4 linked regions of the Homo sapiens genome follow. Each later gene encodes a partner of the first gene's protein in a complex. Each region holds a gene or a part of one and is shown in the gene's direction. Other genes may lie near its edges. The genes, in order: TRAPPC8, TRAPPC12, TRAPPC9 and TRAPPC11.

What was found.
Region 2: TRAPPC8 (region 1) and TRAPPC12 share a complex: the UniProt entries of both Homo sapiens proteins name them as parts of the multisubunit TRAPP (transport protein particle) complex.
Region 3: TRAPPC8 (region 1) and TRAPPC9 share a complex: the UniProt entries of both Homo sapiens proteins name them as parts of the multisubunit TRAPP (transport protein particle) complex.
Region 4: TRAPPC8 (region 1) and TRAPPC11 share a complex: the UniProt entries of both Homo sapiens proteins name them as parts of the multisubunit TRAPP (transport protein particle) complex.

What each region holds. Positions count from the first base shown.
Region 1 is NC_000018.10:31,933,012-31,940,268, reverse strand, and holds part of TRAPPC8 (trafficking protein particle complex subunit 8), read left to right. Parts: intron 1-3,817; exon of another isoform or gene 3,818-3,848; coding exon of another isoform or gene 3,849-3,930; intron 3,931-7,257. UniProt on the Homo sapiens protein: Plays a role in endoplasmic reticulum to Golgi apparatus trafficking at a very early stage. Maintains together with TBC1D14 the cycling pool of ATG9 required for initiation of autophagy. Involved in collagen secretion.
Region 2 is NC_000002.12:3,459,636-3,466,892, forward strand, and holds part of TRAPPC12 (trafficking protein particle complex subunit 12), read left to right. Parts: intron 1-627; coding exon 628-701; intron 702-1,008; coding exon of another isoform or gene 1,009-1,068; exon of another isoform or gene 1,069-2,963; intron 2,964-5,961; coding exon 5,962-6,060; intron 6,061-6,618; exon of another isoform or gene 6,619-7,257. UniProt on the Homo sapiens protein: Component of the TRAPP complex, which is involved in endoplasmic reticulum to Golgi apparatus trafficking at a very early stage.
Region 3 is NC_000008.11:140,370,566-140,377,822, reverse strand, and holds part of TRAPPC9 (trafficking protein particle complex subunit 9), read left to right. Parts: intron 1-6,642; coding exon 6,643-6,859; intron 6,860-7,257. UniProt on the Homo sapiens protein: Functions as an activator of NF-kappa-B through increased phosphorylation of the IKK complex. May function in neuronal cells differentiation. May play a role in vesicular transport from endoplasmic reticulum to Golgi.
Region 4 is NC_000004.12:183,683,098-183,690,354, forward strand, and holds part of TRAPPC11 (trafficking protein particle complex subunit 11), read left to right. Parts: intron 1-877; coding exon 878-957; intron 958-1,047; coding exon 1,048-1,126; intron 1,127-1,207; coding exon 1,208-1,262; intron 1,263-1,598; coding exon 1,599-1,744; intron 1,745-1,986; coding exon 1,987-2,048; intron 2,049-2,173; coding exon 2,174-2,306; intron 2,307-3,520; coding exon 3,521-3,651; intron 3,652-7,257. UniProt on the Homo sapiens protein: Involved in endoplasmic reticulum to Golgi apparatus trafficking at a very early stage.

The sequences.
Region 1 (7,257 bases):
TCCTGACCTCGTGGTCCGCCCGCCTCCGCCTCCCAAAGTGCTGGGATTACAGGCGTGAGCCACCGTGCCCGGCCGAAATTAGTTTTAATACTGTATTTTATTTAACTCAGTATTTCCAAAATGTTACTATTTCAATGTGTAATCAATGTGAAAAATATTCATGAGATATTTTACATTCTTTTTTATTGCTTAGTCTTTGAAATTTGGTGTGCCTTTTATACTTAACATCTCAATTTGTACTAGTCACATTTCAAGTACTCAGTAGCCATATGCAGCTGTTGCCTACTGTATTGGACAGTGCTGTGATAGCGGCTCATTGTCAGTACACTTCTGATTTCCTTCAGGAGACTGGGGAAGATTAGGGAAGGAGTTTTTTTGTTTGTTTGTTTTTTGTTTTGAGACAAGGTCTTGCTCTGTTACCCACGCTGGGAGGGCTGGAGTGCAATTGTATCACCATAGCTCCCTCACCCACTGCAGCCTCAACTTCCCAGGTTCTAGCTATCCTCTTGTCTCAGCCTCCCAAGTAGCTGGGACTACAGGCACATGCCATCATGCCTGGCTAATTTTTAAATTTTTTGTAGAGATGGGGTTTCTCCTTGTTGCCCAGGCTCGTCTCGGACCACTGCGTCCAGCCTAGTGAAGGAGTATAATGAGTTGGACGTTAGTGGACAGGTAGACAGTTGGTAGAAAGCAAGAGGGCAGTCATTCCCTATGAAGGAGTGGTATGAGGTTATAATGGTATGGGCAAAAGGTCTAAATTATGACTGAATGGTTGGGAAACAGGGAGGAAACTCTTACTGGGGTACAGAGTAGTAAGAGGATGCTTAGATAAAGGGAGGACCTTGAATTCTAGGAAAGGGATTTGCGATTTTATGTCTAATGGTAAATGTGAGTAGATTCTTGAGGGTCTGAAACATTTGGACATTAATGAGTTGAAAGTTTTGGAGATTAGTGAGTTGTGTGGTTTATAAGGATAGATATAAGTAGATACAAGTTTTACATTTCAAGATGAACATGGACTATGATAGTAGCATTAGAAATTTGGCAAAGAGGACTTAATTTTTCTTGGTTTTAGTTTTTTGCTGGTATAAATACATTTTAGAATTCTTTACCACCTAGAACAGCTACTTTTTGTTTCAAGTGTGGGGATTCTTCAAAGACAGCTTTTTTTTTTTTTTTTTTTTTTGAGACGGAGTCTCGCTCTGTCACCAGGCTGGAGTGCAGCGGCGAGATAGATCTTGGCTCACTGCAAGCTCCGCCTCCCGGGTTCAAGTGATTCTCCTGCCTCAGCCTCCCGAGTAGCTGGGACTACAGGCTCGTGCCACCATGCTCAGCTAATTTTTCTATTTTTGGTAGAGATGGGGTTTCACCATGTTGGCCAGGATTGTCTCTATCTCTTGACCTCATGATCTGCCCGCCTTGGCCTCCCAAAGTGCTGGGATTACAGGCATGAGCCACTGAGCTAGGCAACAGCTTTTCTTTAGCAAGTGAGGCATGAGAATATAATTTCAGGCAATGTAATTTAAGAATACAACTGACTAAAACCAGCTAACATTTCCTTAGAGGGAGAAAAAATATGTTAAAAAAGAAGACTCAATTTCTGGCCTGTAGGTATGCCTTTACTTAGGGTAGAACTTTGCCTTGACTGCTGAGTTTTCAAGGAGTGTCAAGTACAGTGCCAAGTATTGTCAGGAGACTTATTTTTAGATTTTAGTAGAAAACACTTGGTTTAAAGCTATACCAAAGAGAGGGTTGGTAGAAGAGATTTGAGTACTATTTGTGTGTAGGGCCTTCAAAATACAGTTTAGACTTGATGTATTACACAACGGAGAGCCATTTTAGGTTCCTTAGAGACATTTTAAAACCTGAAGAGTATTAAATTATGTTAAAATTAAATTATATTAAAATATATAATTAAATTTATTATATGTATTTTCTGTGATTGTTATGCTTGATGTATGTTTGAGAGTTAATGTAGTCATTGTTTGACACAAATTTTGAGATCCTAATACTCAAAGAATTTCCACTGGCCATGTTTCAAAGAGTCGTGGTATTAATATTAATTAATCAAGCAAACAACAAAAAATTAAAATTAAGCCTTGTTTTTGCTTAGTGATAGTTCTTTGATAGTTCTAAACAATGTTGCAATATATCATTTAGATGTTCTGTAAGTTTTAAGAAAATTTCACTTAAACACTAACTTGGAAGTATGTGGGTTATATATTATTTTATTTTGAAATTAAGGTTACTAAAGGGATTAAAAAGTAGGCCAGGTGCAGTGTCTTAGGCCTGTAATCTCAGCACTTTGGGAGGCTGAGTTGGATGATAACCTGAGGTCAGGAGTTTGAGACCAGCGTGGCTAACGTGGCGAAACCCCATCTCTACTGAAAGTACAAAATTAGCCTGGTGTGGTGGTGGGCGCTTGTAGTCCCAGCTGCTCGGGAGGCTGAGGCAGGAGAATCACTTGAACTCGAGAGGTGAAGGTTGCAGTGAGCCAAGATTTTGCCACTGTACTCCAGCCTGGGTGACAGAGCGAGACTCTGTCTCAAAAAAACAACAAAAAAAAGTAGACTAGGATATAACTTTTGAAGGCTATTTAATATCTCCAGTTTTCTTAAATTTCTTTTTCTTTTCTTTTTGAATTCTTGAAAAACATTGTGTGATCCTTGTGCAGGAGCTATGCTAATCTTCTCTGTATCATTCCAATTTTAGTATATGTGCTGCTGAAGTGAGCAGTTTTTTTTTTGAGACAGAGCCTCACTCTGTTGCCCAGGCTGGTCTTGAACTCCGTGGCTCACTATAGCCTCAACCTTCTGGCTCAAAATATCCTCCCTCATCAGCCTCACCAGTAGCTGGGGTTATGGGCATGTACCACCACACCTGGCTAATTTTTGTAGTTTTTGTAGAAATGGGGTTTTGCCATGCTGCCCAGCCGGTCTCAAACTCATGGACTCAAGCAATTTACCCGCTTTGGATTCCCAAAGTGCTTTGATTACAGGCGCGAGCCACTGCGACCGGCCTTAAATTTCTTTCCTTTTCCTTTATTTTTATTTTTTGAGACGGAGTCTCGCTCTGTCACCCAGGCTGGAGTGCAGTGGTGCGTCTCAGCTCACTGCAAGCTCCGCCTCCTGGGTTCACTCCATTCTCCTGCCTCAGACTCCTGAGTAGCTGGGACTATAGGCGCCCACCACCACGCCTGGCTAATTTTTTGTGTTTTTTTAGTAGAGACGGGATTTCACCATGTTAGCCAGGATGGTCTTGATCTCCTGACCTCGTGATCCACCCGCCTTGGCCTCCCAAAGTGTTGGGATTACAGGCGTGAGCCACCGCGCCTGGCTCCTTTTTTTTTTTTTTTTTTTTTTTTTTAAAGACGGAGTCTTGCTCTGTCACCCAGACTGCAGTGCCGTCGCACAATCTTAGCTCACTGCAACCTCCGCCTCCCAGGTTCAAGCAATTCTCCTGCCTCAGCCTCCTAAGTAGCTGGCATTACAGGCACGGGCCACCACTCCTGGCTAATTTTCGTGTTGTTAGTAGAGACAGGGTTTTGCTATGTTGGCCAGGCTAGTCTCGAACTCCCGACCTCAAGTGATCCACCCGCCTTCGGCCTCCCAAAGTGCTGGATTACAGGCATGAGCCACTGCGTCTGGCCTCTTAAATTTCTTTTAGTTGGAAATATTTCATCAATCTTAACTACCATGTTTATATAATGAAGTAATTAATCTCCAAGGTGTGGAAGTACCAAACTCTGAATAAAATTCAAGTCAGTTTTTCGAAATTTGTTTTCATTTTGTTTTATTAATTTTTCGAGACAGGGTCTCACTTTGTCACCTAGGCTGGATACAGGGGGCATGATCATGGTTCACTGCAGCCTCGACCTCCTGGGCTCAAGCGATCATTCCACATTGGCCTCCTGGGTAGCTGGGATTACAGGTTTGCATCACACATTTGGCTAATTAAAAAAAAAATTTTTTTTGTAGAGATGGGGTTTTGCTGTGTTTCCCAGGCTGTTCTTGAACTCTTGGACTCAAGCGATCTGCCAGCCTCGGCCTCCCAAAGTGCCTAGATTACAGGCTTGAGCCACTACACCCAGCCAGAGGGTTTTTTAATATGGTAAAGTTTTATATGTATAAAGTATACAAGATCCTCCTACCTTAGCCTCCTGAGTAGCACACAGGTGTGTGCCATCACACCCAGCTAATTAAAAAAAATTTTTTTATAGAGATGGGGTCTTGTGCCAGGTGTGGTGGCTCACGCCTGTAATCCCAGCACTTTGGGAGGCCGAGGTGGGTGGATCATGAGGTCAAGAGTTTGAGACCGGCGTGGCCAACATGGCGAAACCTCGTCTCTACTAAAAAAACACAAAAAATTAGCCGGGTGTGGTGGCGGGCGCCTGTAATCCCAGCTACTCGGGAGGCTGAGGCAGGGGAATTGCTTGAACCTGGGAGGCGGAGGTTGCAGTGAGTTGAAATCATGCAATTGCACTCCAGCCTGGGTGACGGAGCGAGACTCTGTCTCAAAAAAAAAAAAAGAAATGGGGTCTCTCTCCCTCTGTTGTCCAGGCTGGTCTTGAATTCCTGGGTGCAAGTGATCCTCCTGCTTTAGCCTCCTAAAATGCTGAGATTACAGGCTTGAGGCACTCACTGGGTGCAGTGGGTCCAGTGGCTCAAGCCTATAATCGCAGGCTTGTTCATAAAGCCTGCTTTTTTTTTTTTTTTTTTTTAAGATGGAGTTTCGCTCTTGTTGCCCAGGCTGGAGTGCAATGGCACGATCTTGGCTCACCGCAACCTCCACCTCCCAGGTTCAAGCAGTTCTGCCTCAGCCTGCCGAGTAGCTGGCTTGAGCCACTGGGTGCAGCGGCTCCAGCCTGTAATTGCAGACTTATTTATAAAGCCTGTTTTTTTTTTGGTTTGTTTGTTTGTTTGTTTTTGAGGTGGAGTTTCGCTCTTGTTGCCCAGGCTGGAGTGCAGTGGCGCAATCTCGGCTCACTGCAACCTCCACTTCCAAGGTTCAAGCAATTCTGCCTCAGCCTCCCTGGTAGCTGGGATTACAGGCATGCGCCACCACGCCTGGCTAATTTTGTATTTTTAGTAGAGACGGGGTTTCTCTATGTTGGTCAGGCTGGTTTTGAACTCCCAACCTCAGGTGATCCGCCCGCCAAGGCCTCTCAAAGTGTTGGGATTACAGGCATGAGCCATCACGCCCGGCCTAGCCTGTTTTCTTTGTACAGTTTTATATGCTGGGTAAAAGCATAAAAGATGTCATTATTTTCAAAATACATTTTATTTATTTATTTATTTATTTATTTATTTATTTATTTATGAGACGGAGCCTCTCTCTGTTGCCCAGCAGGCTGGAGTGCAGTAGTGTGATCTCAGCTCTCATTGCCCAGGCTGGAGTGCAGTAGTGTGATCTCAGCTCTCATTGCCCAGGCTGGAGTACAATGGTGTGGTCTCGGCTCAGTGCAACCTCTGCCTCCCGGGTTCAAGCGATTCTCCTGCCTCAGCCTCCAGAGTAGCTGGGATTACAGGCACGTGCCACCATGCCCGGCTAATTTTGTATTTTTAGTAGAGACGGGGTTTCACCACGTTGGCCAGGCTGGTCTTGAACTCCTGACCTCTGGTGATCCGCCCGCCTTGACCTACCAAAGTGCTGGGATTACAGGTGTGAGCCACTGCGCCCAGCTATGAAGCAACTTTAAGGAAAATACTTGTCCAATATGTTCCTAAGGATATCAGAAATGCACCATAGTTTTTTTGTTTGTTTGTTTGTTTCTCTGCTGCATAATTAGACTGACTGGGAAGTTTAGGGAGAGAGGCTGGTATGTTTATTTAAGTTAGAAAACATAACAGTTATAGAAGAATGCAGATAATACAAGAAACATCCACCTCCCCACTACCCAGAACTAACAAATATTAACCCTCCATCATATTTGCTTTTTATCTTTTCTTTTAAAAAAAAAATCAAACGTTATAGGACAGACTTCCCAGGTTGAAGTTTTCTTTCTACCTTATCTTAGTCTCTTTTCTTTCCTTCCTTTTATAGGCAACCACTATCATAGAATTTGCATGTACCATTTTTTTTTTTTGAAAGGGAGTCTCTGTCGCCCAGGCTGGAGTGCAGTGGCGCAATCTTGGCTCACTGCAACTTCTGCCTCCTGGTTTCAAGTGATTCTCTTGCCTCAGCCTTCCAAATAGCTGGGAATACAGGCGCTTGCCACCATGCCTGGCTAATTTTTGTATTTTAGTAGAGATGGGGGTTTCACCTTGTTGGCCAGGCTGGTCTCGAACTCCTGACCTCAAGTGTTCCGCCCGCTTCAGCCTCCCAAAAGTGCTGGGATTACAACAGTGAGACACCATGCCCGGCTGCATGTATACTTTTTGTGTATCTATATTTATGTTTACAATATAAATACACATTTGTACCACATACAGTATTTTAAAAACGTTTTTGAGTCTTTTTTTTTAGTAAAAAATGTTAGAAATCAATAGAACACATAGGAAATGTAGAAAAGTTTGTATGCATATAACTTTATTTAAAATATACGCAGGCCTTGATTTTGGTATAAGGCATTTTCCATTGAGAAGAATGTGTCATTCTTTATTTGTAGGTACCCAGACCACTTTCCCAAAGTTGCCTCTTATTTGTATGTGATAATAACCCATGGTGCAGGTGAAATAGGTGATGTTGTATCTGCTGCTGCTGCTATACCGCCTTCATTATGTATTGTTGAGCATGGTGCTCAGTGCTTTGCAATTACTGTCTAACAATAGTTCACCTAAATCACTAAAATGATCCCGTGAAGTAGATAGTAATCACATGTGCAGATGAAGAATTTGAAGCACAGAAGGGTTAAGTTGTTCAGGGTAACCCAGTTGATAAGTAATGGGTTGGGATTTAAATCAAGGTCCAACTCCAAAAGCTGGGTCCTCAATCATTATAATGGACTCCTTTTTTTTTTTTTTTTTTTTGAGACGGAGTCTCGCTCTGTTGCCCAGGCTGGAGTGCAGTGGCACGATCTCAGCTCACTGCCAGCTCCGCCCGCCGGGTTCACACCATTCTCCTGCTTCAGCCTCCCAAGTAGCTGGGACTATAGGTGCCCACCACCACGCCCGGCTAATTTTTTATGTTTTTAGTAGAGACAGGGTTTCACCGTGTTAGCCAGGATGGTCTCGGTCTCCTGACCTCGTGATCTGCCCGCCTTGGCCTCCCAAAGTGCTGGGATTACAGGTGTGAGCCACTGCGCCCGGCTTTTTTTTT
Region 2 (7,257 bases), on another chromosome or scaffold:
TCGCGGTCAGCCACCGTGTGGCAGCAGGTGCTAGGGAAGGAAGCCAGCTGCAGGGGAGTGCCGAGTCCCCAGCGGAATGTGCCAGCCACTTGAGTTCTGGAACACGGTGTAGCACTCCTTGGGGGAACCGGCGTCTGCACCAGCCCATGGTCGGGAGGCAGGGGAGGCCTCATGGCTGGGCATGGGTGGGGCCCTCCGGGTGGCCTCCCATAGGTCAACTGCGAGAGGCTGGCGGCCACCCTGGCCAGTGGCCCTCCCAGCCTTGTCGAGCTGCAGGCAATGTCGTCGTTTCTGTCAGCTTTGCTCCTTTTCTCAGGGTTCTGGCTTTGGAAACGGGGCCCCCGGTCGGACCATTTGGCCTTGTGTCTGGGCTGATGCTGAGCAGCCACCCTCCTGGTTCTCTGATGCCGAGGGTCTCTTCCCAAAGCCACCTCTGGTCCCAATGCGAGTGCTGTATTTTCTGCCTCAGTGCAGCCTGCAGCATATTCAGCATTCCAGGCCGAAATCCAGTGGTGTTAACAAGAGGGATCTTTTAAAGTTAAATTAGAATTCACAGGACCCAGTAATTGAGGGCTAGAAAGAGCCTCGAATTTATTTGTGCACTTACAGGCTGCTCTTACCTTGTAGCCTCTATCCGGCTGTGGAGGTCACGTCTGGGCCGGGTGATGTACTCCATGGCAAACTGTCTGCTCCTGATGAAGGTACGTGGGTGGCCAAGCAGGGCTGCCATGTGATCTGGAAGAGCGGGGTCAGTGGGAGCCGCGAGGGAGCCGCTGGTATAATAGATGCTGGCAGGGACCGGCCGTGCAGAGAAGCCAGCTAAGTACTGGCTTAACAGGGAGCCCAGTGACACATTATGGGGCTATATGTACTTTATTTCTACTGCAAGAAATTTCAACAGAATGTAGAATTTAGATGATCAGATTTCATTATTGAAATGTGGGTCTAAATGATTTAATTAAAAGTATTGTTCATTTTCCCCCATTTTTCTCTGAACTCCATCCCCAGAAGGTGTCCTTTGTTCTCCCTATCTTCGTGGAGGGTGTTTTTTTCACCTCATGGTTTTGATTTTATGATTGATGCTTACAACACCTGAAGACAGGCTTCCCCACAAGACCTTCTTAGGACGTCACCCCAGAGCTCTCAGCCCGCAGGGAAACAGCTTAGAAATCAAGGAGCTGAACTGAGGCTGTCATCTGTTTTTCCGTGTCTCCTGGCTCTCGCCAGCCTGTGCAACGGTGTTTTTTGGCTCCTCTCTTTGTTTGGAACGCACCCCACACCTGGCTCACCTCCCACACTGGGCATCAGGGTGCCCTGTGTGGAGCTAGTGTCCCTGCAGCCAGCTGTGCGTACTGAGAGCTACTGCAGGAATCAGCTAGCAGCAGGCGCTCCGGAGCAGTGCTCGTAACACCTCCTGGGCTGTTCGAAGACAGCGACCTTAACTCCCACACCCATGCGGCTTTCATGGGGCCAAGGTCATTCCTGAGCTTGATTTTCAGCAAGGCAGAGCAGGCAATTTACCAGCGGAGAACTGTGCTCACGGGCTCTGTCATGAACCCTGAAGTGGCAGCCCTGCTTTATGCACGGACCCTGCAGCATCCCCAGAGGTGACTGTGACCCCGGGCACTGCTCCGAGCAGGCTGGGTGCGGGTATAGATTCACAGCCATCAGTGGCTCAGGCATTCCATCAGGAAGACGTGCAGCCCGCACCCCGGCTTTAGCGCAGCCCCAGTGCCCAGTGCGGGGCCGCTGCCTTTGCGCTTCTGCGTCTACGTCAGGCTGGACGCACAAGGAGACTCGGCGTCCTGTTCATCCTCGGTAGCAAGCGACCGTGACGCAGCCTCGCACTACTGCAAGCCTCAGCCTCCTCCTTAAAATAAGGGCATAGATCTGAGATCTCTGAAATCCCTCCCAGCTCTGACATTCACACAGCTCTCTCCTCTCCTTCAACACACTGGATAAAGGAAATTACGGTTTTCAAGTTCTGTGGTTTTGCTCAGAGCAGGTTTTTCTTCCGCTGCCACTCCTGAGATAGTCCCACTGAGGTCAGGTGGCCCGCACAGGTGCTTTGTTCTGGTCCTCACCCTCCTCCCACCCGCCCCCTTCCCTTCTCCAGCCCCCTCTGGCTTCTGCAGCAGGGCTTGCCCACCTCTGAGTGGGAGTGAAAAGTAGGCCCTCCTGCTCCCCTGCCCTGGTGGCCTCTTCACCACCCAAGGCTTGGCCAGCAACCAGGTGACCCCGAAGCACCCGGCCTGACCCCTCTGCCTCCCAAAACAGGCCATTCTCCCTGTGCTGCCTGTGGCCAGCCCTGACACCCCCACCTGGCGGTCTGGGCGGTCCGCAGTAGGCCTCCACCTGCTGAGGGCATTGTCAGCGTCACCTGAAAGTCACCAGCTTGCCGGAACATTCTTATGCAAAGACATGAAGAATCAATTATAAATTCACAGGACTGACGTTTCACTAATCATGGGGCTAAAACTCCCCAGGGAGGAAAGTTCCCTGTTCCACTGGCGGGCTTTCATTTGCATTTTAAGACACATTAATAGAAAACGACGGAATGGGCTTTTCTTTGTGGCACTGTGGTAGTAACACCACCACCAGGCTCCGAATGTGAGTCTTCTTCCTGTATTGCTGGGACTCAGTACAGAACATATTATTGCATTTCAAAAATACTTTTACAATGGACATGATTTAATTTGAAAGTTCAGCTTAAGCTTTCATTTTCATGAGTTAAAAAAAGGAGGCAAAAATGTTGCAATTAAAGCCAAGCCAAGCATATGCACTCTCTTGCCATCTAGTGAGCATACAGGGTATTGCAACAGTGTGTGATCTTAATAATATGGGGTATCCTGTTAATTAAATTATGTATATGGGCTAACAATGAGTTATTTAATCAGCCATTTAATTATCTTGAATAACATTTTTATTACAGTGAAATAAATACCAATTTAACTTCTTAGCAATGAAATGTATTCATACGTTTTAGCCCTGGATAAATCTGCATGATATGCTATAATGCACAGTGGCATGTATTATAAAGCATTGAAAATGTCACTATCTTCACTTTTTAAATACTTCTTCCTCTCCTTAGGCCTCACTGTAGCCTTAGGGCACCTGCACTGGCAGACCATATGGATGCAGGTGCCTGCCACCTTAGGTGGCTTGGGCCCCCCCTCCCCCGGGTGCCCCTGGGAGGCCACTTCCCTCCTGGTGTCCCCACAGCTCGCCAGTATGCACATCAGAACCCGCCGTGGCTCCGCACATGATGGAAAGGAGCACGCAGCTGCATCAGCTACCTTCCGTCTTGCTGAAATTAGACTGCAGAAGTCCTTGCTGGTTGCAGAATGGTTGTAAATCTAGTTTCACGGCCTGTAAACACGTGTGGCTGCTGAAAAGAAATGGTGAAGATTGAGCTAAAATAGACTTGTCCCTGGAAGTAAGTCATTCATGTCCTTTACAAAAGCCAAATCCACAGGATCTGGAGAGTAGGTTAAGCTCTCTTGAGGAGCTTCTTTTGGCCATTTTACCTGTGAAGGGCTGTTTCCTCTTCAGTAAATAAAGTCATTAAGTAACCGTCAACCTAAGGAAACTTTGTAACACAATCCCAAATCCTCATCTGCTGTATTGACGATGGGCCCCCTGAAGTGCCCCAGAATTCTTCCCCCAACTGCAGCCCGGACACACAGACACGTGTCATGTTCACACCTGAGGGACTGGCGAGCGCTACTGTTGCTGAGCTGGTGGGAGTGGCTGCCGGCGGGTGCAGGGGCCCCCGAGATCCCTTCTCTGCCGCGCCTGCCCCCGGCCTGGAATCCAGCTTCCTCTCACACGGCTCCCAGGCCTGTGCACGTGCTCTTTGGGAAGAGCCATGCCTAAAGTAACTTCCCATCAAAGAGCATGGCTTGGTTTCGTAAAAACCTGTCTTTTGTCATACTAGATTATCTTCAGAAACACTGACCCCTGGCCCTGAGCACTGAAAGAGCGGTTAGGGTGATGCGGCTGGCCACGGCATCGCCCACTAGCAGTGAGTGCTGCGCCCCCACCACGCCCCCACCCTGCGCTCTCTGTGGTGGCCGCCTCAGCCTGGAGCATCAGTGGCGTGAGTGGGGCACTGGAATGACCCAGTGACACTGCCGGGCTGATAACAAGAAAGTCAAAGCCTGCCTTTTGTTTACTTGAAACCAAAGGTGGGACATGTGTGGGATTAGAACAGACATTGCCCAGCATGATGGGTGCTCGGAAGCCTACTTCCTTCCCCAGAGAAGCCTAGGGGGGCAGCTGCTACTTTTCCCCGAGCTGGTGCAAGCTGGTGAGTGCAGCCTCTGTTGGAAAGCAGGGCTGCTCCCCTAAACTTCTCAGATCAGGGCCAGCCCAGGGTGTGCAGGCCCCACAGCTGCATCTGGGGTGCCATGTCCGTCCCAGCTGCAACCTCAGCCGCCCCGAGTGCCCCCATGCCAGGTCACAAAGCCCTCCCCTGTGTGAGGGAGCTCACACACACACGTCCACACACACACATGCTCACACACACGCTCACACTCATACACAATGCTCACACACGCTTACACACACATGCTCGCACTCGCACAGCTAGACAGCAGAGACAGGCAGCAGGAAGGCGTGGGAAAGGAGACCGAGGCATGTGCTGTCTGGCTCGTCATGGGCGTCAGGCCTTGAATAAAATTAGTTTTAATGAGCTGTACTCGAAGGTACTAGACTGGAGAGAGTCGTTTTGGGTTTTTTTTGTTTTTTCCTTCCTACCAAACTGGAATTGTACTTGTCTGTCTTTCTTTGTAACATCCCAATTAGCAAGCCAGTAACTCCAGTCCCAGTTTGGAGGAAATGGAACATGTAGAAGAATAAAGAAATAAAAGTACCTCTGGGATTATACGATGAGTAAGTAAGAAGAAAAACACCATTGGTGGCCATAGTTACTGCTGACCGCGTGCTTATAGCTAAGTGCGAGAATGCAGGGGAGCATTTAGTGCAGGGCCTGCCGCACACAGCTCGCTCAATAAATGCGGCGATCACTGTCATCCTGGAGAGAGCCCGGGTTTGCTGGGGACTTGAGACAAGCTACCACTGTGTCCCACGTGACTTTGGCAAGACCTTCCTGCACGGAGACCGCGTTGCTCACACCTGGAAAGGGTGACTGGGTCCGCTCAGCGTCCAGCAAGTGGCTGTGATGGGCCGGCATGAGTGGGCAGATGGACAGTGAGACTGTGCTGCCAGGCCTTGCCCTTGAGGAGGGGCCACGGGCCAGACCACCACAGGCAGGGCAGAGCGATGAGGAATCCAGCAAAGGCCTTTGGCAGAAACCAGATGCCCTGAGCACGGCAGCTGGCACAGCGCTCCTACATGTTCCCCCGTAGCTGTCTCTAAAACGGGAAGGTCTCATGCGTGCCGCACGGAGCACACGACATTCACGCACTCTGCAAGGCCGACCTCCATCACATACTCAGCCTCAGCAAACTTGTTTTGTGGTTTTTCTTTACATGTAAAGGTTTGACCTTAATTTCTAGCATAGAAAACGTTTAAGAGACACTTTAAAAATTTGGCCTATGTATTTGGAGGATGGAGATGAGACAGCGTTCGCCAACTCACATGATAACTTTGTCAGGAAAGAGAGTTAGGTGCAGTCCAAGTGAAATATGAATCGCTGTTTAGAAGATGGAAGCAGGAAACAGACCCTCAGGCCCAACTAAACCGCGACAGCCCCCGGTGACAGGCAGGACCCCGCCGTTGCGATGCGCACAGCTCAGAATCCCGGCCCGACTGCAGTCGGGAGAGCAGCCGCCCCCTGGCAGCCGAGCACCGCGTGCTGGTTTCCAGCTTCCCCGCCAGCTCCTGCGTCAGCGTGTCCTCTCTCTACACCGCGTCTGTATACACTTGTGCTCTTCTACACGTGTGAAACCCACAGTGCTGTTCTCAGCTCTAAAGTACGTTGGGTTTTTCTTCCCACAGGATTATGTGCTGGCCGTGGAGGCGTATCATTCGGTTATCAAGTATTACCCAGAGCAAGAGCCCCAGCTGCTCAGCGGCATCGGCCGGATTTCCCTGCAGGTACCTGTGCACGGTCAGACATGAGCCAGAAAGGCCTTATGATAGTTCTTTGCTCAGATGGGCGACTGTTTGCTTTTAATCATTTTAATATAAGAAAGACTGCAGAAAATATTCCAATTCAAATGTATGTGACCATGAAAAGGGTGGGTTCTTTCCAGGAGTTCTGGTTTGACTGTGGGAGGCCCTGCTGGCTTTTGTGCCTGTTGCTAAATGTGAACCCACAGAAAGTGTCATCACAGCCACACTGAAATGAGTTACTCTAGACATTGTCCTGCTGCAGTTACGAAAGCACTGACTAAACCGTGAGGAATCTCAGTTCAGCTTATCCCGTAATAGTCACTCGCTGATATTTTGCCTGAAATAACCCTTGAATCATGTTTGCTGGACAGACAAAGTCCAGACTGAACAGTGGTCTCAGTAATGCACAAAGCTCGGCAGGACCCCCTTTGCTAAGAATGTCCTTGAAGCTGGAATGCATTTTCCTGGAATATTTGGTGACAGGGAGGTCACAGGGAGTGATGAGTCCCGCCCACATCCCTGTCAATCCCACCCTTGCAGGCGGAGCACAGGGCAGCTTCTGCCCCTCTCACCCTCAGTCTTAGGTCACGTCCCAAACCTGGGCCAGGGAAAGGAGGCACGAGCAAGGGATGGCTGAGCGGGGAGAAGCAGCACAGACCTTCCACAGGCACCCACTCACGGTGAGCCAGGCCCTGCGCTGAGCATTTCACCTCACGGTGTGACTGGCTTGTTTTACAGATCAGCAAACTGAGGTCTCCTGGTTAAGTGATATCCAGCTACAGGAGGCCACATAGATAATGGGGAAGCTAGAATTTGAACAGGGCCTCTGTGAACTCAGGGCCTGCACTCTCAGCTAACAGCTGGTCCTCTCCCCCTCCACACAGTTGCTCACACATGCACTGACACACGTAGGCACACGTGCACACACCATCTCCTGCACGCCGCCTGCTTGTGGAAGTCCACATGGGACACCAGATAGTGTTGGAGGACAGCCCTGTCCATGGGCCCCTGTGGTGGGGCACAGCAGATGACTGTCACTGAATAACCCCAGGCAGGCACAGATGCGTGACGCGTGAGCTGCCACCATGGGCATCGGCTCCTGCCTGCACTGGGATGCTTGCAGCAACCCTCGTTACCTGTGTGAGAAAGCTCTGTGTGGCCAGGATCTCCAGGCTGCCT
Region 3 (7,257 bases), on another chromosome or scaffold:
GTGTCCATCTAATCTGACAACACATCATTAGTGTTTTGTAGTGTAGTGCGGAAGGCATTAGTCTATTTCGGACAGGCAGGAGAGGAGTTTAGGAAAGGAGTGATGGGGGGTGGGGGACGTTTTAGCTGTGTATGGTCTTGTTTAATTGGCTTTTAATTTCAGGCTGCATGAGTTGTCATTGGAGGGACTAGATTTTATGGAGAACAGACTTAAAGAAACTCAGAACTTGGCTGGGTGCAGTGGCTCATGCCTGTAATCCCAGCACTTTGGGAGGCTGAGGCGGATCACCTGAGGTCAGGAGTTTGAGACCAGCTTGGCCAACATGACGAAACCCTGTCTCTACTAAAAATACAAAAAGTAGCCGGGTGTGGCGTCGGGCACCTGTAATCACAGCTCCTGAGGAGGCTGAGGCGGGAGAATTGTTTGAACCTGGGAGGCAGAGGTTGCAGTAAGCCGAGATTACGCCACTGCGCTCCAGCCTGGGCCACAAGGGTGAAATTCTGTCTCAAAAAAAGAGAAGAAAAAAAAAAGAAACTGAGAACTCTGGTATGGAAAGATGAATGTGGAGAAAAGCTGTAGTCAGAGTTCAAATCATCTTTAAAGTACACATGAACTCGCTTGCTCACTAAACCCAAAGATGGTAAAATAGGCAGTATTTCTTGAAGCCAAAGGAGTGGGTTTTTCAGGTTATCCAAGAATGAATCAAAGGCTGGAACTGAGGTGATCAGGGGTCAAGCGCGGACTTTGCTTGGCCATCTCTTTTGGATGGTGCACTCAACAAGGGCACTGACTGTTTACAAAGTGTCCTTCCTCTAGCATGTGGTGGGTATACCTGGTAGTCTAGGAACCTTCCAGGTATCTGTCCAAGGCATAGGGCACAGCATCCCTGTTTCAGCCATCTCTCCATCCATCTTCTTCCCAACACTGTGATTTTTTTTTTTTTTTTTTTGAGATGGAGCCTCGCTCTTGTTGTGCTGAAGTGCAGTGGCGCGATCTCGGTTCACTGCTAACTTCCACCTCCCAGGTTCAAGTGATTCTCCTGCCTCAGCCTCCTGAGTAGCTGGGACTATAGGCACCCACCATCACGCCCGGCTAATTTTTATATTTTTAGTTGAGATGGGGTTTCACTATGTTGGCCAGGCTGGTCTCGAACTCCTGACCTCAGGTAATCTGCCTGCCTTAGCCTCCCAAAGTGCTGAGATTATCGGCATGAGCCACGTTGCCTGGCCTCAACACTGTGATTCTTTTTTTTTTTTTTTTTTTTTTTTTAGATGGAGTCTTGCTCTGTGCCCAGGCTAGAGTGCAGTGGCGCAATCCCGGCTCACTGCAAGTTCCGTCTCCCAAGTTCACGCCATTCTCCTGCCTCAGCCTCCCAAGTAGCTGGGACTACAGGTGCCTGCCACCACGCCTGGCTAATTTTTTGTATTTTTAGTAGAGACGGGGTTTCACTGTGTTGGCCAGGATGATCCTGATCTCCTGACCTTGTGATCTGCCCACCTCATCCTCCCAAAGTGCTAGGATTACAGGCGTGAGCCACCGCGCCCGGCCTCCAACACTGTGATTCTTTATGGACCTATCTCCTCTACTACTTCATGAAGTTTTGAGGGACCAGGTCTTATTGAAGTTTTTGTTTTGTTTTGCTTTGTTTTCATTCTTACTTTTGAATGATTAAAACTGAAAATGGATCCAATTACTTTAGACAGATGCTTTATAAAGGAAAATCCTTGGTGCATGCCTCATACCCCTACTCCGGGATATGAGAAAGTAGGTTATGTTTTTAACAAACTTTTTTGATAGACATATATGGAAAGTTTGTATAATTTTGAAGATGTATTTTCTCTCCATGTAATTATGGCTGGAAATAGCCGGAGAGAGGAGCAGAGTGTGTTTTCAAACCTGGGAATGTGTGGGGCCTGCTGTTTCCCATCCGGCATTCTCCCACGGTCATCATTTAGTTGAGTGCGGCCACCAGGCTGCCCCTACACATCTGTCACTGACTTGTTCTTCTGATCACTGCAAGTGCCCACGTTTGAGAAGGCTGATGAGGGTTAAGGCATTTTCTAGAGCATCAGTGGCTGGTTAACTTGGGGTTAGAACTTGTGGTGTCAAAGGCATTAACTAACAGTGATATTTCTGTTTCTTGAACACTCACTGAGAGTTTTAGGCTTATGCTCAGTGTTTGCATTATTTCATTGAGTCTTTTTGACAATCGTAATTAGATTTGATGATCCCTGTTTCTTAGGGATATGCAGATGTGGCCCTGGAACTCAGGACTTTACAGCTCCAGGCTGTATTCCTCCCTCTCCATCCTGCCAGAGACAAGTCCTGTGTCTGGAGTTTCCCTCTGATCTTGTCACTTTATTTCTTATTAACAGAATAAAGCAGGTCTAAACTTACTTTCTACTTGGAAATGGAATGGTGAGTTAATATTTGGATCCCTCAGAGTCTGCCTTGTGAATAAAGCTCCTTGTCTTGAGTAGTCTTGGAGCCACTTTCGTTGGAACCTCACATAAACATCTGGGCCCTGAACTTGGACTTCGTGACTGTGCAGCCTATTGAAAGATTAGAACAAAGATGTGCTGATTAATATGCCCTAAAAGAGCAGCAGGTTGGAAATGAGTTTGGGGATTTCATCTCATTTCAAGATTTCCTGAGGATCTTGGCCTAGCTTTGCCAGGGACCATTTTGTACTCCCCGGCTCCTTGTGCCATAGGTGCCTGTGTCGACCAAACATGGCTTTGTCCTGAGGCTCTCTGGGCTCATGGCTTCTCAGTCAATTGTCTGCCTAGTGCCCAAAAGCAGTTGCGCTCGAGCTTTTCCCATTAAGGAACCGTTTTAGGGCTTTAAAGTGATGTCAATTCCATTTGCAATGTAGTATTTATCATTTGACTTCTTATTACACTGAAATGATAAGAGGAATGAAGTAATATTATTACTGATCATAGTATTATTTACAACCTTTCATCTTAGATAGGTTCCATGAAAGAATCAATGGGAGTTCTAACGCATTGGTGGCCAAGGCATGTGACCTTCCCCGGCTGTCACCTTTATTTTAGATGGTGACCTCTTTACAGGCACTGGCTAAGATCAGTATTCGTCTTCTCTGCCCCCTTCTCTGCCCCAACATCTTTGATCATGTCTGGCACATAGTGGGTGCAGCTGAAGGTCTGGGCATTTCCAGATTTGTGATGAAGGCGTTAAGTACCCCCACCTCTTCTTTTTCTTTTTTTCTTTTCTTTTCTTTTTTTTTTTGACATGGAGTTTCACTCTTGTTGCCCAGGCTGGAGTGTAATGGCACAATCTTGGCTCACTGCAACCTCCGCCTCCTGGGTTCAAGCAATTCTTCTGCTTCAGCCTCTCAAGTAGCTGGGATTACAGGTATGCACCACCACGCCTGGCTAATTTTGTATTTTTTAGTAGAGACGGGGTTTCTCCATGTTGGTCAGGCTGGTCTCGAACTCCCAACCTCAGGTGATCTGCCTGCCTCGGCCTCCCAAAGTGCTGGGATTACAGGTGTGCGCCACTGCGCCCGGCCAACCCCTGCCTCCTCTTTACAGTCCTCTTCCACCCCGTCCCTGGCTGCTGTCCTCCAGCACTGGGGCTTCTGTTCGCTGCTGTACTGCACACTCCTGGAAAGGGACAGGCCATGTCCTACTCAAATTTGAATATTCACGGACCATAGACCTAGACAACAACTTCTAGATGAAAACATAGGATATCTTTGTGACCTCGGGCAAAGATTTTTCTCAGATGAGGACATAGAAGGCACTAACCATAGAAGAAAAAGCTGATAGATTGAGCTACATCACAGAGAAATGCTTTTGCTTATGAACACTCCCTTAGGGAAATAAATCGGCAACAGACCGGGAGGAAATATTTGCAAAACACATATAACTAAGGACTTGCATTCAGAATATATACAGAACTCGTACGACTCAGTAATAAAACAAACGATCTAATTTTAAAAACTGTCAGAAGATTTGAACAAGCGCTTCACAAAGGAAGATATACCAGTGGCCAGTGATCATATGAAAAAGGTTCAACATCATTAGTTTTCAGGGAAATGGAAGTTAAAGCCACCACAACGTCTAAAATAAAAAAGACTGATATCCTCATATGCTGGTGAGCAGGTGATATCCTCATATGCTGGTGAGCAGGTGATATCCTCATATGCTGGTGAGCAGGTGGAGCAACAGGGATTCTCACACATCGTCGGCGTCGGCATGACCTTTCACTGTAGGAAAAGTGGGGCTGGCAGAGATCCGATATGTAGGTAAATTGTGTGGGAGACACAGAGAAAGGACATTATGGAGTCCAGCATGGTTAGGAGAATTTAGGGAAAGAAGCAGCAGCTTCCCGCTGAAGGGCATGAGGACCAGCTTCTTGGAGAGGGTGGCATTGGAACCGAGTGTCCAAAGGGAGAGCCAGATGTGGCTGTGGAGGCATTGCAGGAGCAGAGAGCCTGTGTGCCCCGGCGGCGTCACCTAGTACAGCCTGCCTCATACGCTTCCACCCATGATTCTATGTCAAAGAGTATTTCATTGGACTTAGAGCAGCTATTTTGTTTATTTTTTCATTGATTTATTGTCATCCTCCCCACTGATTCTAAGCCAGGGGACTAGCCTGTCATTAGCATGGAGGCCCCCAGGGGTAGGAGTCTTAGCTTGTTTTGCTCACTGCTGTATCCTCTGCCACAAGAGTGGCTGGCACCAGAGTAGGGGTTCAGTAAATATGTGTTGACAGAATGAGAAAACAAATGAGTTAAAGTTGTTCAGTCTGGTGAGGTCATAGGTAGGCAGTGGGGCCTCGAATTTCCAGAGCAGGTTGGGGCTGAGGAGGGCCTGGCATGCCCGTGAAGGCATTTGGGCTCCATTTTACAGTCCTGAAGGGGTCTAGTGGTTTCAAGATGGGGATTGTCTTAGTCCGGTGAGGCTGCTGTCACAAAATGCCACAGACTGGGTGGCTGATAAACAATAGAAATGTATTGTGCACAGTTCTAGAGGCTAGAAGTCCATGATCCAGGTGCCAGCATGTTTGGTGTCTGGGGAGGGCCCACTTGCTTGTTCATAGACCGCCGTCTTTTCTCTGTGTTCTCACATGGTGCAACAGGTGAGCTAGCTCTTTAGGGTCTCTTCTTATAAGGGCACTAATTCCATTTGTGAGTGCTTCACCCCCTGACCCAATCACTTTTTAAAGTCCCCACCTCCTAATTCCATCACCTTGGGGGCTAGGCTTTCAACATGTGAATTTTGGGGAGGCACAAACATTCAAACCGTGGCTCGGGTGATGGGCTCTGAGCCATGTCTCAGGAACCTAAGTCTGGCAGGGGTGTGTGGACAGGTGAAGGAAGGTCGAGAGGTGGTAGGAAGACAATGCCGATTCCTCTTCCAGATGAGGGCTGACGAGGGCCCCATCGAGGCCATGGCAGTGAGCGCGGAGGAGAGGGGATGGAGGGAGGGTTTGGAGGCCCAAGTTGGAAGGGCGTTCAAGCTAAGGCTCTGTACTCACAGAAACATCAGGGAAACATTCATCGTCCAGGGCAGAGGAGGGAGAGAAGCGCTTCCTTAACAGTGCTCCTGGAGCAGCAGAGTGGGCTCTGCCTTCCTTCTTCTCTGAAGGCGCTGTGCAGTGGGCAGGGCCCAGGCCCAGAGTCAGGTCTTGTCCCTGATACTTCTTGGCTGTGTGATTTTGCACAGGTGATTAATGTGTCCCTGAGCTGTTAATGTCCTTATTTGCCAGCTCACAGGATGCTTGTATTGAGTAAATCAGGTACGTTAAGTCTGCTGCCATACAGTAGGTGCTGAAGAAACAGAAGTTGTTGGCTGGGCGTGGTGGCTCACACCTGTAATCCCAGCACTTTGGGAGACTGAGGCAGGCAGATCACCTGAGGTCAGGAGTTCGAGACCAGCCTGGTTAACATGGTGAAATCCCGTCTCTACTGAAAGTACAAAAATTAGCCAGCATGGGGGTGGGTGCTTGTAATCTCAGCTACACTGGAGGATGAGGCAGGAGAATCTCTTGAACCCGGGAGGTGGAGGTTGCAGTGAGCCAAGATCGTACCACTGCACTCCAGCCTGAGTGACAGAGTGAGACTCCGTCTCAAAAAAAAAAGAAAAGAAACAGAAGTTATGATTGCTACACTACAGGGTTGTTGGGAGGATTCAGTTGGGTCTTGGATGAAAGAAAACTTTTGTAAACCCTGAAGTCTTAAGTCTGATATCAGTGGTATTGTTAATAATTCATTACCCAGTTACATGATTCTGTGTCTTCTTGTGTTTTAAGAATTTTTGTGTTTGATGAGAGACCTTGATAAAATCCTGTTGTGTAGATGAACTCTTGTTCCTTTTCTTTTCTTTTGTGAAGGAACTTAAAGTAGAGGTCTCAGATTTGTAGCAGGTACCTTTGTAGCAGAGAATCTGGGCTTTATCAGCAGGAAGATGGGCTGCACCTGCAGCTGTGGCTGGGGAAGGTCTGAAGCCACCTGGGGCCTGCGCCATGCGCTGCTCACCAGGCTTTCCCTCTCCTTGATTCTCCTCGATTCTCCTCAGGTCTTTGTTTTATGAAGAGACATTTTTAATGTGTGCTTCTTTTTTCACTTATACGTTTCTTTCAAAAGCTTTTTACTTTCTCTCTGTGCTTCAGCTTTCTGAGGAAGAGAAAATTCAGCGCTACAGCATCCTCTCCGAGCTCTATGAGCTGATCGGCTTCCATCGCAAGTCTGCGTTCTTCAAGCGCGTGGCCGCCATGCAGTGCGTGGCCCCAAGCATCGCGGAGCCTGGGTGGAGGGCCTGCTACAAACTCCTCCTGGAAACGCTGCCCGGCTACAGTCTGTCGCTGGATCCCAAAGATTTCAGCAGAGGTACTGGAGTCCCCTTGCTGGCGCTAAGGTGTTGCTTTCTGTCTGATGGTCACATGCTGTTTCAGCCCCTGCCCTGAGTGGCAGACATCGTGGTTGGTGCTGGTGGCTCCAGAATGACTAGATCCCTGCCCTGGAGTTGGGTGCCTGCTGTAATCCGATTATAGGAAAAAGTACTGGTGCTTTGCCTTGGGGCTCGGATTCTTGAATCTTTATCAGTGGGAGTCAGAAATTGCCTTTGAGTTCATTGGCATGGTGTGTCATCATCAATCAAACAGTGGAAGTACCTAATGAATTTTACTCATGAGATTTAGTTAGTTTAGCACAAATCAATGAACCCAGAATAAATATCCTTGGGTATATGTGTATACCTGAGCTATGCATTCAGCAGTAAATTCTTA
Region 4 (7,257 bases), on another chromosome or scaffold:
TCACACCTGTGAACAGCCACTGCACTCCAGCCTGGGCAGCATAGTGAGACCTCATCTCAAAAAAAAAAAAAAAATACAACATTTGGACATCTGTTGTTTTAAATGACACATGCCACTGTTGTCTTATTTAAATATTTTAATTCCAGTTAACTTTTAACAATTGATTTGACATTTTAAAACAGCATTAACTCATATTACCTTAAAAACAATTTCTCTGCATATTTTTTAATACTTTATACGTAATTTAATTCAAGCAATTGAACTATAACTGTTAAATTACTGGCTAGGCGAGGTGGCTCATGCCTGTAATCCCAGCGCTTTGGGAGGCCAAGGTGGGAGGATTGCTTGAGGCCAGGAGTTTGAGACCAGCCTGGGCAACATAGTGAGAACCCATCTCTACAAAAAAATACAAAAATTAGCCACACATAGTGGCATGTGCCTGTAGTCCCAGCTACTTGGGAGGCTGAGATGGGATGATCGCTTGAGCCTAGGAGGTTGATGCGCAGTGAGCTGTGATTGTACCGCTGCACTCCAGCCTGGGCAACAGAGTGAGATCCCGTCTCAAAAAAAGAAAAAAAGGAAATGATTATCTCCAGCAAGTGTATCCTCTATAGAGGATGATATTGACATTGCTTTTCAGATCGTTGATTCCAGTAGGTAGAAGAACATTGAGCTCAATAATGTTCCCATCAGAACAGAACACGGAAGTTTCCATGTTAATAAAGCTGCCTCTTAGCACCTTTACGATTCTAGAATGTTGAAGAGTCTGAAATGATTATATTAAATAAAGGTTTCAAGGAGTGTACACATACAACGTTCATATGAAGATTTATATTAAATGAGCTGTCTAAAATGAGTTGTGTCTCATCTTACGCAGGTTTTGATCTTTCTGATCCTGAAAAAGAAAAGGTGGGAATTCTTGCCATTCAGCTGAAGGAGAGAAATGTTGTTCACTCTGTAAGTTTTGTGTCCAATATAAACTATTTTTTACACTATTTAAGAAAAATATTTGTATTGAAATGTTTCACACTCTACTTTTTCTAATAGGAGATAATCATAACTCTTCTGAGCAATGCTGTTGCACAGTTCAAGAAGTATAAGTGCCCGCGAATGAAAAGTCACCTAAGTATGTATCCACAAACGTCACCATTGCATGCAACTTTGAATGACTTTAAGTTACATACATAAATCTTTTTTTCCTTTATAGTGGTTCAGATGGGAGAGGAATATTATTACGCAAAGGATTATACCAAAGCTTTGAAGTGAGTCCTGTTCACTATTTACTTTTACAAGTATTTGGATTATCTGAAGTGAAACTGAAATAGAAATCAGTGTTGAAGGAGTTCGTATTTTCATATTTATTTCTATTGTTGTTAAACTCCATTTCTGTAATGTTTTTTTCAAGTGCTATTGATGGCACAATCTTTTTCAGTGTTTTAAGAAATCTCACGTTTAGCTAAATATGAGAATACCTGTTCAACCATCTCAGTAAGATTTTTCTATACTTACATAAAATGAGGAAAGTATTTTTTTCTCCATGAACTCTTCGAACCCTTTCTTGTGAAGCCGGTTCAGTATTACATTTTGTCTTCTTTGAGGTTGCTGGATTATGTGATGTGTGATTATCGGAGTGAAGGATGGTGGACTCTGCTCACTTCTGTATTAACTACAGCTCTGAAGTGCTCCTACCTCATGGCCCAATTAAAGGATTACATTACTTACTCCCTAGAACTCCTTGGTAGAGGTAACCTGATGTTTTTTGAGTAAAATTCTTGATACATAAAATTATTTAGCATCTTTAAGCTTTTTAAAATTTAAAGAATAATTTAGTCCCAGATAATTAGTATACTTTACTATGTGCAAATCACTGTGCTTAGTCATCTTAAAGAGGTATTTATTATTATATCAAGTTTCTAAAACAATAAATGGGGGTAGTAGACTTAATTATAAGTACTTAAAATGTTTTTCCTTCTTTCTTCATACTAGCTTCAACTCTGAAAGATGACCAGAAGTCTCGGATAGAAAAGAACCTCATAAATGTTTTAATGGTAGGTTGGAATTGTTTATATAGAGTGTGTTATTAGGAATATGTGTACTTATATCTATATCAACTAATCCAAGTAGTGGTTTTTATTCAACTAGTTGAATGGATGTTAACTCTGTGTTGATGCAGAATGAAAGTCCTGATCCAGAACCCGACTGTGATATCTTAGCTGTGAAAACTGCTCAGAAGCTGTGGGCAGACCGAATTTCTCTGGCTGGCAGCAATATTTTCACAATAGGAGTACAGGACTTTGTGCCATTTGGTAGGTAGCTAACATCTACAGTACTATTTCAGAGAAATTGTCTTATTTCTACAAAATGAATAGGTGCAGAATAATAAATATAAAAGTCAAGAAAGAGTTTTCAAAGTATAATCATGTTATAGATAAACTGATTTTTTTTTGTGTCCCCTCAGTGACTTACAAAGGTAGTTAGGATCTTAAATACTTGACTTATGTTTTAAAATACACTTTGCTCATTTGTAGTTCAGGTGTTATTAGAAACACCTGACAGTTATTTAAAAGGTTGTGCTTTACTGTCTAGGTAGGTATTTTGAAATAATAATAAAATGGTTCTTTTTCATTTAAAATCTTGTCATCTACATTTCAGGAGCAGCTGTGTTTTTAAAATTAAAGATGGTTTTGAAGCTGTAATTTATTTAAATTTTATTTTATATTATTTATTTGTTCATTTATTTTATTTTTCTTTTTCGAGACAGGGTCTCACTCTGCCACCCAGGCTGGAGTGCAGTGGCATGATCTCAGCTCACTGCAACCTCTTCCTCCCAGGTTCAAGCGATTCTCCTCCCTCAGCCTCCTGACTAGCTGAGATTACTTATGGGCGTGTACTACCATGCCTAGCTAATTTTTGTATTTTTAGCAGAGATGGGGTGTCACCATGTTGGCCAGGCTGGTCTTGAACTTCTGACCTTAGGTGATGCACCCGCCTGAGCCTCCCAAAGTGCTGGGATTACAGGCACGAGCTACCATGCCTGGCCTATTTATTATTCTTTTTGAGATAGAGCCTTGCTCTGTCACCTAGGCTGGAGGGCAATGCTGCGACCTCCGTTTACCACAACCTCCACCTCCTGGGTTCAAGTGATTCTTGTGCCTCAGCCTCCCTAGTAGCTGGGATTATAGGTGCACACCACCATGCCCGGCTAATTTTTGTATTTTTAGTATAGATAAGGTTTCACCGTGTTGGCCAGGCTGGTCTCAAACTCCTGACCTCAAGTGATCCGCCTGGCTTGGCCTCCCCAAGTGTTGGGATTACAGGCGTGAGCCACTGTGCTCAGCCTAAATTTTATTTTTATAATAAAAAGTTAGCTCATTTGTCTCTTGAAGTGCCTTAAGTGCAGAAGTCAGTAAGAATGGTCAGTGCAGATGTGTCTTTCTGAAGAATCAATTTGGTTAACAGGATGTGTGTGGGTCGTGGGTATCTGGTTGTGCATAACACAGCCCTTTTGTTTTATTTCTAGTGCAGTGCAAAGCCAAGTTTCATGCCCCAAGTTTTCATGTTGATGTTCCTGTTCAGTTTGATATTTATCTGAAGGCTGATTGTCCACATCCCATTAGGTTTTCCAAGCTCTGTGTCAGCTTTAATAATCAGGTAATGATGCCATGTCATGTGTTTTTACCACGTTTATCTTATTGTAGCTTATGTTAAACTAGATAAAATGAGCTTAGTGAATTTTATGTCTTAATGGTTTCATAGTAACAAATGAACTTTGGTAAGGTCTATTCAAAAATATATCTCCAGGGCCGGGCACAGTGGCTCACGCCTGTAATCTCAGCACTTTGGGAGGCCGAGGCAGGCAGATCACAAGGTCAAGAGATCGAGACCAGCCTGGCCAACATGGTGAAACCCCGTCTCTACTAAAAATACAAAAAAATCTGCTGGGTGTGGTGGCACGTGCCTGTAGTCCCAGCTACTTGGGAGGCTGAGGCAGGAGAATCACTTGAACTCGGGAGATGGAGGTTGCAGTGAGCTGAGATCGTGCCACTGCACTCCAGCCTGGTGACAGAGCAAGATCTGTGTCAAAAAATATATATATATATATGTTTCTAAACTTCTAGCAATTCAAGTTTACACTTTGCTTACTCCAATTTTTGTTTTCACTCCATGTTTATAAAGTCTTAAGAATTCTCTGTGTGTGTGTGTATATATATATATATGTACACATATAGTATATATATACTTTTTTTTTCTGTCTTTTTTGAGACGGGGTCTCGCTCTGTTGCCCAGGCTAGAGTGCATTGGTGCAATCATAGCTCACTGTAGCCTCAACCTTTTGGACTCCCACCTTAGCCCCCTAAGTAGCTGGAACTACAGGCACCTGCCACCACGTCTGGCTAACTTTTGTATTTTTTGTAGAGACAGGGTTTTGCTGTGTTGCCCAAGCTGGTCTTGAACTCCTGGGCTCCAGTGATCCACCAACCTCAGCCTCCCAAAGTGCTAGGATTACAGGTGTGAGGCATCACATCTGGCCTTAAATTTTTTTTATAATGTATACTTGAATTCCAAATAAGGTATATTCAGAATGAATAGAATTAAAAAAACATTTGGTTTATATTTTACTTCAACATTATTAGTTAATGTTATTAGTTTATGATTATGGAACTAATTTATGTTTGACATTTAAAAAATTGAAATGGAATAGATGGATATAATGTGAAAAGTAAATGTGTGTCTTCTTTCTTCTCCATTCTCCCACACACCCTCTACGTTAACTTCTTGAATAACCTAGACATTTTCTGCACATGAATATATAAGCAACTTTTTTTCTTGCAGAATTGGGATCATATTTCCTGCATTTGAATATATTTGAAGCATTATATAGTATATAGTCAAGTACTTCATTACAACTCTATTATAAACTCACTTAGTAGATAATCATCTTTTGATTACCCAGAAAGTATAGTGAGTCTTTCACCAACAAGCATTTATTGAGAGTTACGATATTCTTAACATGCTGAATCTGAGTATAGCATATGTCGACCTCATTAAAATTTAGGCATTTTGGGGACAAGGGCCAGGACAGAATCAAAGATTGCCCAAATAGGTAATGAAGACTAAATTACGTAGTGTAGGCTAGAAAGAGGGACAGCTGTAGTAGGCATGCCAGAAAAAAGGGAGGGAGTTCCAAGAATGAAGATGAAATTACGATAGGTCGAAAAGATGGAGGGGGAGAACATGTTTGGCAATGAGAAAACACTGCATGGAAACAGAAGCGCACAATCTGTGTTTCTGGGAAAGTCACACCTCACTAGAACAGAGGGTTTATAATGCTGGGTGGTGGGAAATAAGGCCAGGTGGCTTAAAGGAACCTGGAAGAGTTAAGCGGGGATAGGCTAGTAAACAGATGTCTTTGAAGATTTATTTGTTCTTTTGTCTGTGTTCTATTTATTGGATGGTGATAAAGAAACGTTATCTGTTTTATTAGGATTTGATTCATAAGAAAAGAGAAATATCTCTGTAATAGAAATGATTAGATGAAGCTGGGTCACCTGAAGATCAGTATGTTCTATTCAACTTCAGACCCTTGCCCAGGGATTTCCTCTAATCCGTTTGAGAATTTTATTTTAGTGTGTGTGCGTGTGTGTGTGTGTGTTTGTGTGTGTTTTGAGACAAGGCTGCACTCTATCTCCCAGGCTGGAGTGCAGTGGCACCATCTTGAGTTACTGCAGCCTTAGTCTCCCAGGCTCAAGTGATCCTCCCACCTCAGCCTCCTCTGAGTAGCTGGGACTACAGGCACATGCCACCATGCCCAGCTAATTTTTGTATTTTTTTATAGAGATGGAGTGTTGCTCAGGCTGGTCTTGAACTGCTGGGCTCAAGGAGCCCACCCACCTCAGCCTCCCAAAGTGCTGGGATTACAGGTGTGAGCCATCATGCCTGGCCCAGTTTGAGAATTTTAAAGCAAGAGCATGCAATTTATTCTTAAAGTTTTAAGAAACTTTATTCTAGTAGCAAAATAGAAATAATATCATGGAAGCCAATTAGAGGCTCTTTATATTAATCCATGTACAAAAGTACAAGTATCGGAATTGAGTTGCTGGTGTTGGGAATGGAGATTCAGGGATATAAGAGGCATTTAAAAATAGATAAATCTGGATTGCCAAGTGCATATAGCGGCTGAAAAGTGGGGATAGGATGAATGAAGGACAGGAGGTTTTGTACATGCCCTTTCCTCTGCTTGAATTGGTTTGCCCTCCTCTCCGACTACTTCATTCCTTCTTGCCTTTTCTCACTTAAAAGCATCACTTCTTCAGGGAAGCCTCCCCTGACTTACATGACTGAATCACTTAGCCAGGCTCTCATAGCCTTGGTAGTACTAATCACACTGTGGTTTCACCGTTGTCTGTGTGATTATTTGGTAAATTACCTGTTTTTCCTTACTGGAATCTAAGCTCCACAAGGGCAGAAGGGCAGGGGTTTTTTTTGTTTGTTTGTTTTGTTCATTATGAAATTAGAGGGTCAACACAAGGACTCTTTTTTTTTTTTTTTTAAAGAGATACTTTGTTGCCCAGGCTGGAGTGCAGTGATGTGATCATAACTCATCTCAGCCTCAAACTCCTGGGCTCAAGTGAAGTATGGGGACTCTTATTTTACTTTTCCCTTAATAGCCTACTATTTCATTTCTTTTCTTTCCTTTTTTTTTTCAACAAAAAATATAAGCTACTATAATTAAAAACTAATAACGCTAAAATGGAATATAAAGCAATTAGTTTTAAAATTTAGATTATATTCTGAATATATCTTATTTGAAATTTAAGATACAGGCGGGGCGCAGTGGCTCACGCCTGTAATCCCAGCACTTTGGGAGGCCAAGGTGGGCGGATCACTGGAGGTCAGGAGTTCAAGACCAGCCTGGCCAACATGGTGAAACCCCATCTCTACTAAAAACCCAAAAATTAGCTGAGCGTGGTGGCGGGTGCCTGTAGTCTCAGCTACTTGGGAGGCTGAGGCATGAGAATTGCTTGAACCTGAGAGGCGGAGGTTGTAGTGAGCTGAAATTGCATTTCTAGTGGGCGATGGAGTGAGACTCCGTCTTAAAAGAAAAGAAATTCACAATATAAACCATAAGAAAAAAAAAAGTAGAGTAGTTTTTATAAGCATGGAATAGAAATGAAAATTGGCGGGAAAGTATAATACTTGAACTGTGTAAGAATTTCTATGAAGGTAATTTATATGCTGGAATAGAAGATGGCTCTT